4 separate regions of the Homo sapiens genome follow, and all the other regions are reported to be linked to region 1. The links are microRNA targets in miRTarBase. Many come from high-throughput screens and were not tested one by one. Region 1 holds a microRNA gene; each other region holds the end of a gene's coding sequence.
What was found. The annotated mature microRNA hsa-miR-126-5p reads CAUUAUUACUUUUGGUACGCG and lies in region 1 at 2,169-2,189, shown strand. An mRNA with a match to its seed (bases 2 to 7 or 8) in the 3' UTR can be bound and repressed. Matches are read on the target gene's strand: a 7mer-m8 pairs with bases 2 to 8, a 7mer-A1 pairs with bases 2 to 7 and ends in A, and an 8mer does both.

Region 1 (3,101 bases):
GGGGACTCCCTGGGGGCTCCTGCTGAGGGTCCTGCCCCGGCCACATGTTCCCATCATTCTTGGGTCCTGCTCTGGGACTCCTGGGCTGACCCCCTCTCCACCCCCGCAGCCGTAGGGTGTGTGCTGTCCGGGCTCACGGGGACCCTGTCTCCGAGTCGTTCGTGCAGCGTGTGTACCAGCCCTTCCTCACCACCTGCGACGGGCACCGGGCCTGCAGCACCTACCGGTGAGTGCCCCACCACACCGAGCTCACCCAGCCCCAGCCTCCCAAGTCGGCCACACATCAGCATGTCAGGGGCGAGGCGGGGGTGAATCCTGGGACCCAAGATGGGAAACTGAGGCCAGAGCCATGAGAGGGCTGCCTGAGATGGGCGACCCAGGGCGGCCGGAGCCAAGGGGTTCCACGATCACCTCCAGTGTCCTAATCCTTGCTCTTGCCCCGACACGTCTCAAAGGACCGCACCTCTAAGAGCATCCCCATGTTTAGAGGGGTCACCCATCCTGTCTGCACCCCTCCACTTCCGGGGGACTAACCCCTCCCTACCCTGGCATCCCTGGCTGCAAGTTCCCATATACACAGAATGGTGCCTGACTCCCCTGGTCCCACTCCACTGGGCACCCCCCTCCACATGACGGCCCCCAGTGGGCACAGATGAGACCCTGAAATGTCCTGTATGCCCACACAAGGGGCACACACCCCTAAGTCTCAGAGTCCTCCTTCCTGGGTGTGGGAGCTCCACCCCCTGCTGGGGGAGGGGCCTGGGAATTCAGACTTCTGGAGGTTTAAGAAGGGCTCCGATGCCCAGGGCCCACACTCTGCCGTGACTCGCCGTAGGCCGGGCACACCCTCTCCTCTGGGCCTGGATGCCCCCACAGTAGGAGACCAGATAGGTGGGGGCACACACAGGCCTGGCCACTGCCTCTGCTCCATGCGGAGTGTGGCTGGGCCTTCCTGCTGTGGCTTGAGTCCCGGCCAGCACCGGAAGGCCCAGGCAGGGAAACGGCTGTGCAGTGACCCCTCAGTGCCATCCCTTGAGGAGAAGACCCTTGGGGGCATGCTGGGGTGACCCTGTGCACTCTGAGAGGGGACTCTAGATGCCCAGCAGGTGACTAAGGGGGAGTAGGATGCCCCTCTGAGCTGTCCCACCCACCCCACAGAACCATCTATAGGACCGCCTACCGCCGCAGCCCTGGGCTGGCCCCTGCCAGGCCTCGCTACGCGTGCTGCCCCGGCTGGAAGAGGACCAGCGGGCTTCCTGGGGCCTGTGGAGCAGGTGAGGGCTATGTCCCTCGGCGCCCGGTGTTAGGAGGGCGACTGTTCCCCAATCTTCCAGCAACGCTCCTGCTGCTTTTCTTGAACCCCGAGCAAAGCACCACCTTGCCGCAGAGCACCCACTCCCTAGCAGCTGCCCCCACAGGGTGCTGGGGACCCAACTGAGCTGGTGACCAGCCTCCCCCGCCCACAGCAATATGCCAGCCGCCATGCCGGAACGGAGGGAGCTGTGTCCAGCCTGGCCGCTGCCGCTGCCCTGCAGGATGGCGGGGTGACACTTGCCAGTCAGGTGAGGCTGGCTCTACCCTGGGGGGCCCTGGAAGGGTCCTGGGCACCTCCTTGCATGTCCTGGGGTTACTGCTGGCCCATGAGTGGGTGGTTGTGAAGGGAGCTGTGTGGGCAGGACCCCTCCCGCAGGCATGGCCGCCTGACACCCCGTTTCCTGCAGATGTGGATGAATGCAGTGCTAGGAGGGGCGGCTGTCCCCAGCGCTGCGTCAACACCGCCGGCAGTTACTGGTGCCAGTGTTGGGAGGGGCACAGCCTGTCTGCAGACGGTACACTCTGTGTGCCCAAGGGAGGGCCCCCCAGGGTGGCCCCCAACCCGACAGGTAAACAGCCCTGGCTGTGCCTGGCCTGGGGAGGCGGGCAGGCAGTGGACATTGCCGTGTGGCTGTTAGGCATGGTGGGGGGCACTGGAATCTGGGCGGAAGGCGGTGGGGACTCCCTCTCCAGGGAGGGAGGATGGGGAGGGAGGATAGGTGGGTTCCCGAGAACTGGGGGCAGGTTGCCCGGAGCCTCATATCAGCCAAGAAGGCAGAAGTGCCCCGTCCCGGGGTCCTGTCTGCATCCAGCGCAGCATTCTGGAAGACGCCACGCCTCCGCTGGCGACGGGACATTATTACTTTTGGTACGCGCTGTGACACTTCAAACTCGTACCGTGAGTAATAATGCGCCGTCCACGGCACCGCATCGAAAACGCCGCTGAGACCTCAGCCTTGACCTCCCTCAGCGTGGCCGGGACCCTGAGCCTCTGCGCAGAGCCACCCGCCCCGACGTACTTAGGCGGCATAGCCCTGAGACCTCTGGCCAGCGCCAGGCAGGCAGCGGGGGCGGCAGAGGCCTGGGCCTGAGTCTTCTGGCTCTGCCTCTCCCTGGGGACAGGAGGGAGCCTGGGGGTGTGGGTGGGGAGCCGGCCGGCCGTGACCCAGCGCCTGGCTCTGCCCGCAGGAGTGGACAGTGCAATGAAGGAAGAAGTGCAGAGGCTGCAGTCCAGGGTGGACCTGCTGGAGGAGGTGAGGCATTGGTGGGGGGGGGGGGGGGCAGGCAGTCCAGGGTGGACCTGCTGGAGGAGGTGAGGTGTGGAGGGGCAGGCAGTCCAGGGTGAACCTGCTGGAGGAGGTGAGGCATCGGGGGGGTAGGCAGGCAGTCCAGGGTGGACCTGCTGGAGGAGGTGAGGCGTCGGGGGGGCAGGCAGTCCAGGGTGGACCTGCTGGAGGAGGTGAGGCGTCGGGGGGGCAGGCAGTCCAGGGTGGACCTGCTGGAGGAGATGAGGCGTCGGGGGGGGAGGCAGGCAGTCCAGGGTGGACCTGCTGGAGGAGGTGAGACGTCGGCAGGGGGCAGGTCTTCACAACAGCAGAGGCCCAGGCCCGGGTACAGGCTCCGTAGTCTCCTGGGACATGGTCCCGACCCACGGATGGCTGGGGGTGGTCTGAAAAGGTCCTGGCCCTGGGGAGGTGGCTTCCTCGCTGCTGACTGCCGAGGGGGCCCTGGCCTGGATCCATGCTGGGCAGAAGCAGCTGGACACTGACCAGGACCCCCCAGGGCCG
Region 2 (3,101 bases), not on the chromosome of region 1:
AGCTGCCCTGCCCCAGCCTGTTAAGAGATGAACCAATGACTAAAGCTGGACCAATGATATTCTTCTAGAAATTGGATTTTAAGTGAATTCAGAAAGAAAAAACAGTTGGAACTTAATTATTCCAATGATGGTTCTTTCAAGAGAGTATTTATTTATTCTAGGTTCTGTGGTTCATAATCAAAGTCTGCTAGCTGGTAAGTTCCCTATTTGAGTGTTTGTATATTGTCTTAGATCATGATTTACAGGTTTGGGATATGCACATTTTGTTTTGCCAGCTGTACTCTATTTATGCTCCCTGAAGAGCATAAACAAGGCTGGGTCTTTATTGTTCATATTATTCCACTGAATTTAGCACTCAATATGTAAGTAGTCAATAAATATTATGTAATGAGTATGAGACTAATCTTAAAAACTTCATTTCTACAAAATGTGATTTGCAAGCCAACTTATGTCCTTTTTGAAGCAAGGGAGTAAATAAATTTTTTTTTTTTTTTTTGATACGCAGTCTAACAACTGTCACCCAGGCTGGAGGGCAGTGGTGTCATCTCGGCTCACTGCAACCTCTGCCTCCCGGGTTCAAGTGATTCTCCTGCCTCAGCCTCCCGAGTAGCTGGGATTACAGGTGCCCACCACCACGCCTGGCTAATTTTTTTTGTATTTTTAGTAGAGACAGGGTTTCACAGTGTTGGTCAGGCTGGTCTTGAACTCCTGACCTCATGATCCGCCTCCTCGGCCTCCCAAAGTGCTGGGATTACGGGCTTGAGCGACTGCGCCCGGCCCTCGAGGGGATAAATACATTTTTAACTGCCACAATTTAAGAATTCTCTTGGGTATGACAGTTGTCTTAAACAGAGCTTACCACTGATACCAGAAAGGGTCTGGATCCAGACGCCAAGAGAGGATTCTTGGATCTTGTGCAAGAAAGAATTGAGTCCATACAGCAAAGTGAAAACAAGTTTAAGTAAAGAATAGGCTGGGCGCGGTGGCTCACACCTGTAATCCCAGCACTTTGGGAGGCCGAGGCGGGCGGATCACAAGGTCAGGAGATTGAGACCATCCTGGCTAACATGGTGAAACCCCGTCTCTACTAAAAATACAAAAAAAAAAAAAATTAGCTGGGCATGGTGGTGGGTGCTTGTAGTCCCAGCTACTCAGGAGGCTGAAGCAAGAGAATGGCGTGAACCCGGGAGGTGGAGCTGGCAGTGAGCTGAGATCACGCCACTGCACTCCAGCCTGGGTGCCAGAGCAAGACTCCATCTCAAAAAAAAAAAAAAAAAAAAAGTAAAACATAAAGAATGGCTACTCCATAGGCAGAGCAGCCCCAAGGGCTACTGGTTGCCCATTTTTAAGGTTATTTCTTGATTATATGCTACACAAGGGGTGGATTATTCAGGCCTCCCCTTTGTAGACCATATGGGTAACTTCCTGATGTTGCCATGGCATTTGTAAACTATCATGGCACTGGTGGGAGTGTAGCAGTGAGGACAGCCAGAGGACACTCTCATTGCCATCTTGGTTTTGGTGGCATTTGGCCGGCTTCTTCACTGCAACCTGTTTTATCAGCAAGGTCTGTATGACCTGTATCTTGTACTGACTTCCTATCTCATCCTGTGACTAAGAATGTCTTAACCTCCTGGGATTGCAGCCTAGTAGGTCTCAGCTTCATTTTACACAGTCCCTATTCAAGATGAAGTTGCTCTGGTTCAAAAGCCCTTGATACAAGAGCTTGTCAGCTTACATACCTTTTTTTTTTTTTTTTTTTTTTTTGGAGACAAGGTCTCACCATGTCACCCAGTTTGGAGCGCAGTGGTACAATCTCAGCTCACTGCAACCTCCGCCTCCGAGGCTCAAGCGATCCTCCCACCTCAGTCTCCTGAGTAGCTGGGACCACAGGTGTGTGCCACCATGCCTGGCTAATTTTTGTATTCTTGGGAGAGACAGGGTTTTGCCATGTTGTCCAGGCTGGTCTTGAACTCCTGAGCTCAACCGATCTGCCTGCCTCAGCCCCCCAAAGTGCTGGGATTACAGGTGCGAGCCATTGCACCTGGCCTAACAACTTGTATATCTAAGAATAGCCTGAAAATAATGTCAGCATGGGCTGTACTTCCCCAATTTTAGGAAAGGAAAGAGGAACTAAAATTCTATTTCAGATATGAGCCTCTGAATTTCAAAAAAAAATTGGGAGAAAATAGACAACAACAAGACAAAAAATAATACACTTTGACCTTGGGCTTGTTGTAGCTTTCCCTGGAAATAAGGTGTGCTTTCTCTCTGCAATCAGATGACAATGGGAAGAGTCTGACTGTGTTTGGGAACTGGTTTACTAAGCCTAAACAAATAAACAATTTTTTTTACTTGCAAAAAATGTCAAGTTACATTTTCTCAAAATTACTTGACATAATACTAACTTAATTGAATGCTTATAAAAATCAAGGAACAAGCAAAATGGTTAGATGTAATAAATTCAAACAAGCTTGAGCATATCAAGTTTTCAAAGCACAGAAAAAGGCATACTGTGCTGAACCACTTACATGTGCTTAAAATGCACAAAGGAGCTCACCTATGACAAAACGGCAGGAAATACAAATTCTCTTCTTTTTTTCTCATTGTCTTTTGAGAAACAATAGACTTACAGTAGTCCTTGAATAGCACAGTCCTCTGGCTTTGTACCTTAACATGTTACAAAGTTCAGTCTTGTGAAAGGAGTGTAGATACCATATTGGAGCTATTCTGAGTCTGGTGCAATGGTTTCTGGAATTTGCCTTGAATCCACACTCGGTGCATTTTCACTTGTTTTTTCCTATTAACTTGTAAGCGGCGATCAACCAGATTTTGCTTTTCATCTAAACTGGCTTTGCAGAACATACTGTGGACTTCCCCTGTGAGACAAAAATGGCAATAAAAGATATGACATGTGACTAGAGATGGGGGAGGTCAGGAGTAGAACACTGATGGAATAACTGACCATCTAAATTTCATTTATACAAGAAACACTCTCTAGAACAATTTGGTGAAGGAAACCTGTGAAACCAAGCGAGTTTCTTCTATTTCACAAAAATACACCATGCATATAAAAATACACCTGTTTACAGACTAACACG
Region 3 (3,101 bases), not on the chromosome of region 1:
AACACTGAGCCTTCTAATCTCAGCCAGCTGTCTTACAAATGTAAAAATTAGATTAAAAGTGTAAAATTGTCATCAAAAGGTTTTAGGTAAGCATGCCTAACCCTTGTTGATTACTGGTAGTTGTAAAGAGAATGTAACAGATGTTTGGAGCTATCTGTGGAGAATGCTTAAAACTTGATGAAACCTTAATTTTAATTTTTTTTCTGATACTCTCTTATATCTCAGGCATGTCCAGATCAGCAATGAGTCGGCAATTGACTTCTACAGGAAGTTTGGCTTTGAGATTATTGAGACAAAGAAGAACTACTATAAGAGGATAGAGCCCGCAGATGCTCATGTGCTGCAGAAAAACCTCAAAGTTCCTTCTGGTCAGAATGCAGATGTGCAAAAGACAGACAACTGAACAAATTACAAATGAACTTTCTTGCACTTGCTTGTCGCCAAATAAAAGAGAGGCCCATTGATTCCTCCCCCACCCCAACACTTTTCTTTTAAAGCTTTTCTCCCTCCTTGTTCTTGTTTTTCTTTCTTCCTTTCCTTTTCTCTGAGAGTTTTAATACTTTCAAGGACTTTAAAAAAATAATCATGTTTGAATTGTTTTCTCTTATTTTTGTGAGGTGGTTTGAAGGAAGGACAAGGTAGATCTGTTTAGTTTTGCAGTTGAAGTTAGATGGTCCTAAACATTTAATTGTCAAATAATTTCAAATTTAATGTCCTGCTTTCACATTGAAGGGCAGAGCCTACAAAACATTGTATATTTCAAAAGACAAAAAGAAGCAGCAGCAGTATCTTGTTCTCTAATTCATAGACAAGTTGAGTGTGTTTGTGGTACTTTGGGTTTTTAAACACTTTGGGATACTAATCCCTAGACATTGCCTTCACTCCACCTTTAGTCCTTCTGAGCACTCTCTCGGGAGTTGGAACATTGTTATCCTTGTAAGAAATACTAAGCTTATGTTGATTTTTAAGTAATTATATCTTCTCTTCTTGCTGGTGGGTGGGGCAGTTTGGTTTAGTGTTATACTTTGGTCTAAGTATTTGAGTTAAACTGCTTTTTTGCTAATGAGTGGGCTGGTTGTTAGCAGGTTTGTTTTTCCTGCTGTTGATTGTTACTAGTGGCATTAACTTTTAGAATTTGGGCTGGTGAGATTAATTTTTTTTAATATCCCAGCTAGAGATATGGCCTTTAACTGACCTAAAGAGGTGTGTTGTGATTTAATTTTTTCCCGTTCCTTTTTCTTCAGTAAACCCAACAATAGTCTAACCTTAAAAATTGAGTTGATGTCCTTATAGGTCACTACCCCTAAATAAACCTGAAGCAGGTGTTTTCTCTTGGACATACTAAAAAATACCTAAAAGGAAGCTTAGATGGGCTGTGACACAAAAAATTCAATTACTGTCATCTAATGCCAGCTGTTAAAAGTGTGGCCACTGAGCATTTGATTTTATAGGAAAAAATAGTATTTTTGAGAATAACATAGCTGTGCTATTGCACATCTGTTGGAGGACATCCCAGATTTGCTTATACTCAGTGCCTGTGATATTGAGTTTAAGGATTTGAGGCAGGGGTAATTATTAAACATATTGCTTCTATTCTTGGAAAAATAGAAGTGTAAAATGTTAATAATACAAATGTCACTGTGACCTCCTCCACTGAGAGGACTGGTTTATGCCAGATCATTTTCCGGCACACACGGAGTGGCTTTGACAGATTGATAACTTTGTAAGATGGGAGACATCTGAAATATTCATGTTTTCCTTTTGTAGTCCCATCTCCACTATTTAGAAATGTTCTCAGACTTTAAAATAATGCACAGGGCTTGAGCTTTCTGTCATTTGACTTTAAAAGGAAGTTTCATTCATATTTATCCTCTTATGTAAAATTGCGGTATAAAGTCTCATTTCCAAATATGTTAAATGACAAAATTATTTTATAAAATGTTTATGCACACTTTATAACCTTAAGTTTTTATTTGAGAATGTGAAAGTACAAAGTGCAGTAGACTTCAACAATCTTGAGTGCCAAGAATAATACAGAAAAAGAAGACAGTTGATGAATGAGTTTATAGGGTTCTAATCTTAAGATGGTAAAAATGTAGAAAGACCTTGCTGGTTTTTTGGGGGTATTCGTTTCTTAAACAATCCAAATCTAAGCTTAGAAGAAAAGTTTAGCGTTAAGCACCTTTATCTTCATGAATAAGCTTCAGCTTGCTCTTGGCAAGAGAAGAGTGCTTGAGTTACAGAAGGCATAAGTAGTTTGAAGAATGCAGCAGCCTTTTTGTAAACTTCCCAGATATCAAAATAGACTTTGATATATAAATGGTTTTCTGAGATGACACTGCCTCTATTTCTATAACCATTTCACCTGGACTATCTAATCAGTCCTATGAATGTATCCCTAAATGTGGTTATTGAAAACCTAATAGCTGCCTCATGACAAGTACATGTTATTTAAGGAGGAAAAAATATTAAATTTTGAATTGAGTGTGTAGGCTCCCTATCATTATATATAGAGTTTCTTTTTCCACGGTAGTCAGTGACTTAACCTGAATTGTAAATGTTTGTAAAGGGTTAATTGTCCTACATCAAACTTAGTTAAATAATTCCATCCACTTATGGAGGAGGAGGAGAATGTGGAAGAGGTAAAAAGCTGGGCACAAGTTCATATGCCTATGAGTCAGTAAAGACTGAAGTAATGTCCTATGTTGAGCTGGTTATTTTGATATATGATAATAATTATCTTTGAAGTAGAACAATTCTGTTAACTGGAAAATCACAGGATATATCCATCATATTTTTCAGGACAGATAGTTTTTACTGTGGGGCAAATAGGTTAAAATTACACTATGTTAGTTGCATTTAGGTTTTAAAGCAAAGAATCTGTAGAGAAATCTATGCAATATATAGTTTGTCCAGATTAGCTTTCATTTGGGGAATGAAGTTCTGAAATATCTAAAGCAGTTTACTCATCAATTGAAAAGTCCTCCAAAAAGAGAACTATTGGGAAACCATGGTGTGGTGGTGGAAAAGAAAAGCTCCCTCAGTTTTTTGGAGGGAATAACTTAAAAAAATACTTAAATGGCTAAGTTTACTTGGTGCAG
Region 4 (3,091 bases), not on the chromosome of region 1:
CAGCTTATCACGCCTCTGCTTCCTCCATCTTTCTCAGTGCTTCTATGAACAAGTCACTTTTCCTTTGTTATTTATGTTCCCTCCATCTTTTATTCCTGCTTCTAAGTTATTTCTAATTGTCCTTATAGGAATAAACCCAAATCTTGACACAGTTGACATTTTCAAAGTTGAAGAAAAGGTCACTGACGTCAATCTGCTCTTTCTAGAATTTCATGTGTGATGAGGGATAACTGCCTCTGTGAACATTCCTCTTTTTGGCAAGGCTCATTGGTGAGGTTTGATTTGTGTGTAGAAGCAACCTCTGCAAAAATCTGAAAAGGAAGTCTATTCTTCTTAGGAATTTAATTATTTTGAAGTAAGGATGAACTTCTGTAGCAGATTCATATTGTCATTACTTGCCAAATTCTCAGTGCCTTTTTATTCTGTTTTTAAAAAGGAAACAGGAAGAGCGAGTACAGCAAGTACGCAAGAAATTGGAAGAAGCACTGATGGCAGACATCTTGTCGCGAGCTGCTGATACAGAAGAGATGGATATTGAAATGGACAGTGGAGATGAAGCCTAAGAATATGATCAGGTAAACTGACACCAGAGAGAGTGACTTGGAACTTAAGGTGTGTTTTCTTGGCCGGACATAGTGCTTCTGCCTGTAATCCCAGCACTTGGGTGGCTGAGGCGGGCGATCAGTTGAGCTCAGTAGTTCGAGACCAGCTTGAGCAACATGGCAAAACCCCATCTCTACCCAAAATACAAAAAATTAACTGGGTGTGGTGTTGTGTGTGTGTGGTTCCAGCTACTCAGGAGGCTGAGGTGGGAGGATCACTCGAGCCTGGGAGGCAGAAATTTCAGTGAGCCAAAATTGTGCTACTGTTCTCCAACCTGGGTGACAGAGTGAAACCCCATCTCAGAAAAAAAAAAAAAGGTGTCGCTGTATTTTCTTGTTATTTTCCCTGTAGCTTCCTCAGCAGTGAATGAAAAAGCTACTCCTCTGCTCGGGTTCTGCATGTGCTGTTGTTTGTTTCTTCTCTCTGGATTGAAGGACCATATAAGTTATTGCATTCTTTTGTTCTCATACTGGGAGGACATTCACACCCCTGCAGTCACTTGCAAGGGATCTAGTCTCCTTCATTAAGACCAGGTGGAAAGCCTCTAAGGTGTCACTAGAGAAGAGCAGCAGCAGAAGAAAAGGACTTTGTCATGTAGGGAGGAACGGCCCCAGAAGAAGAAGGTGACTGTCATCTCCATCACAGTAGCATCCAGGGCATATTGCTTCCTCTTTAAAATTATGGTGGCAAAGCAGGCAAAATCTCTTTCTTTTTCTTAGATTCTCCCTAGCACAGATTTGATGCAGGGAGAACAAGAAGGACACTAAAAAGTATAATAAATACTTTACCTTAAAAAATACACATTTTTAGGCTGGGTTTGGTGGCTCATGCCTGTAATCTCAGCGCTTTGGCATGCCAAGGCAGGCGGATCACTTGAGGTCAGGAGTTTGAGACTAGCTTGGCCAACATGGTGAAACCTTGTCTCTACTAAAAATATAAAAATTAGCTGGGCGTGGTAGAATAGCTGGAATTTTGTAATTCTAGCTACTCGGGAGGCTGAGACATGAGAATTGCTTGAACCCGGGAGGCAGAGGTTGCAGTGAGCCGAGATTGTGCCACTACACTCCAGCCTGGGATGGAGTAAGACTCTGACTCAAAAAACAGCAACAAAAATGCACATTTTGATCTTATCTCAAACTCACATTCCAGGCTCATGGCTCTGTGCCATGGGCATACCTTGTCTTCAGAGGAGCACGTGCAGATCTTAAGGCTTTCTGTGACGTCTTGCTTCCCGGCTTCCATCCTGCTTTGTTTCAGCAGGCCATGTCTTCCTTTTTGGCACCCCAAAACCAATTATTTACTAGTTTCCTTTGAAGCCAAAACAGAGGGAGGGATGGGGTGCTAATATGATGTCAAGGGTCAACAGAGCCTCTCTGAGAAAGTGACATTTATGTTGAGCCTGAAAGATATATAGGAGTGAGCCAGGAGAGGTTTGGGTAAAAGTGTTCCCATTAGAAGGAACAGCAAGGAGAAACTTGGTTTCTTTAAGGAATGAAGAAATTATCCACGTGGTTGGAATGCAGTATGTCTGGGGAGGGGTGGGGGGAATGTGTGGGTGGTGAACCTAGTCACGTAGGACCTGTGGGTTGTTAGGGAGATTGATGACCACTTGAGATTGATCATGAAAATTAGCAGGAATCACTGAAGAGTCAGTAGCATGATCAGATTTGCTTCTTTACAAGAGCCCTATGGCTGCTGCATGAATACAAGGATTGGAGTAGGGAAAGCTTGGAAGCAAGGAGACCAGTTGGGATGTTGCTGCGGTAGTCTCGCAAGAGATGATGGTGGCTTTAGGAGGATGTTGACATGCCAATAGGTTGGGAGAAGAAGAGATGGGTAGATCTGAGATATAGCTGGAGAAAGAATCACGTGACCAGGTGACTGCCTGGAAGTGCGGGTGAGAGAGTGGCGAGGATGCCTCAGGGTTTTCACTTGAGCCATCACTTGAGCTGGGTGGGAGGGAACTCTGTTTGGTAGGGGAACAGGCTAAGGGTAGGGATTGCAGGGAGGGTGAGTTGAATTGTTAACACAATTATCCCCTTCCATAGTGCCTTTATCTTTCATGCCACAGCAAGACCAAAATCCAATAATACATATAATGTCTTACATTTACATGTCCATCCATGGCAGCACTCACTTCTGGGTCACAGTTTCCTGACCATACAGAATCATTTCAGGCTGGGTGTGGTGGCTCACGCCTATAATCCCAGCACTTTGGGAGGCTGAGGTGGATGGATGTCCTGAGGTCAGGAGTTTGAGACCAGCCTGGCCAACATGACGAAACCCTGTCTCTACTAAAAATACAAAAATTAGCTGGGCATGGTGGCGGGCACCTGTAATCCCAACTACTTGAGAGGCTGAGGCAGGAGAATCGCTTGAACCTGGGAGGCGGAGGTTGCAGTGAGCCGAGATCGCGCCACTGCACTACAGCCTGGGTGATAGAGTGAGACTCTGTCTCAAAAAAAAAAAAAAATCATTTCAATCCAGT

Region 2: the mRNA of METTL8 is a reported target of hsa-miR-126-5p. Seed matches in the 3' UTR shown: 7mer-A1 at 333-339.
Region 3: miRTarBase lists NAA50 as a target of hsa-miR-126-5p. Seed matches in the 3' UTR shown: 8mer at 1,622-1,629, 7mer-A1 at 2,028-2,034 and 7mer-m8 at 2,731-2,737.
Region 4: miRTarBase lists MBD2 as a target of hsa-miR-126-5p. The part of its 3' UTR that is shown has no 7-base or 8-base seed match.

Annotation. Positions count from the first base shown.
Region 1 is chr9:136,668,448-136,671,548 of GRCh38, forward strand. It overlaps MIR126 (microRNA 126), which reads left to right and starts at 2,155; the gene lies at 2,155-2,239. EGFL7 (EGF like domain multiple 7) reads left to right here. Exons shown (of 11, transcript NM_016215.5): 5 at 110-226; 6 at 1,159-1,274; 7 at 1,467-1,562; 8 at 1,722-1,883; 9 at 2,503-2,567. RefSeq lists enhancers at 986-1,487, 1,488-1,987.
Region 2 is chr2:171,321,484-171,324,584 of GRCh38, forward strand. METTL8 (methyltransferase 8, tRNA N3-cytidine) reads right to left here. Exons shown (of 10, transcript NM_001321154.2): 10 at 1-2,879. The coding sequence ends at 2,689. Among named protein-coding and RNA genes, the nearest start is that of METTL8, 110 kb to the right of the region's middle. RefSeq lists a silencer at 2,496-2,790 and an enhancer at 2,872-2,971.
Region 3 is chr3:113,719,062-113,722,162 of GRCh38, reverse strand. It overlaps NAA50 (N-alpha-acetyltransferase 50, NatE catalytic subunit), which reads left to right. Exons shown (of 5, transcript NM_025146.4): 5 at 226-3,101. The coding sequence ends at 403. Among named protein-coding and RNA genes, the nearest start is that of USF3, 24 kb to the right of the region's middle.
Region 4 is chr18:54,157,249-54,160,339 of GRCh38, reverse strand. It overlaps MBD2 (methyl-CpG binding domain protein 2), which reads left to right. Exons shown (of 7, transcript NM_003927.5): 6 at 437-575. The coding sequence ends at 563. Among named protein-coding and RNA genes, the nearest start is that of SNORA37, 64 kb to the left of the region's middle.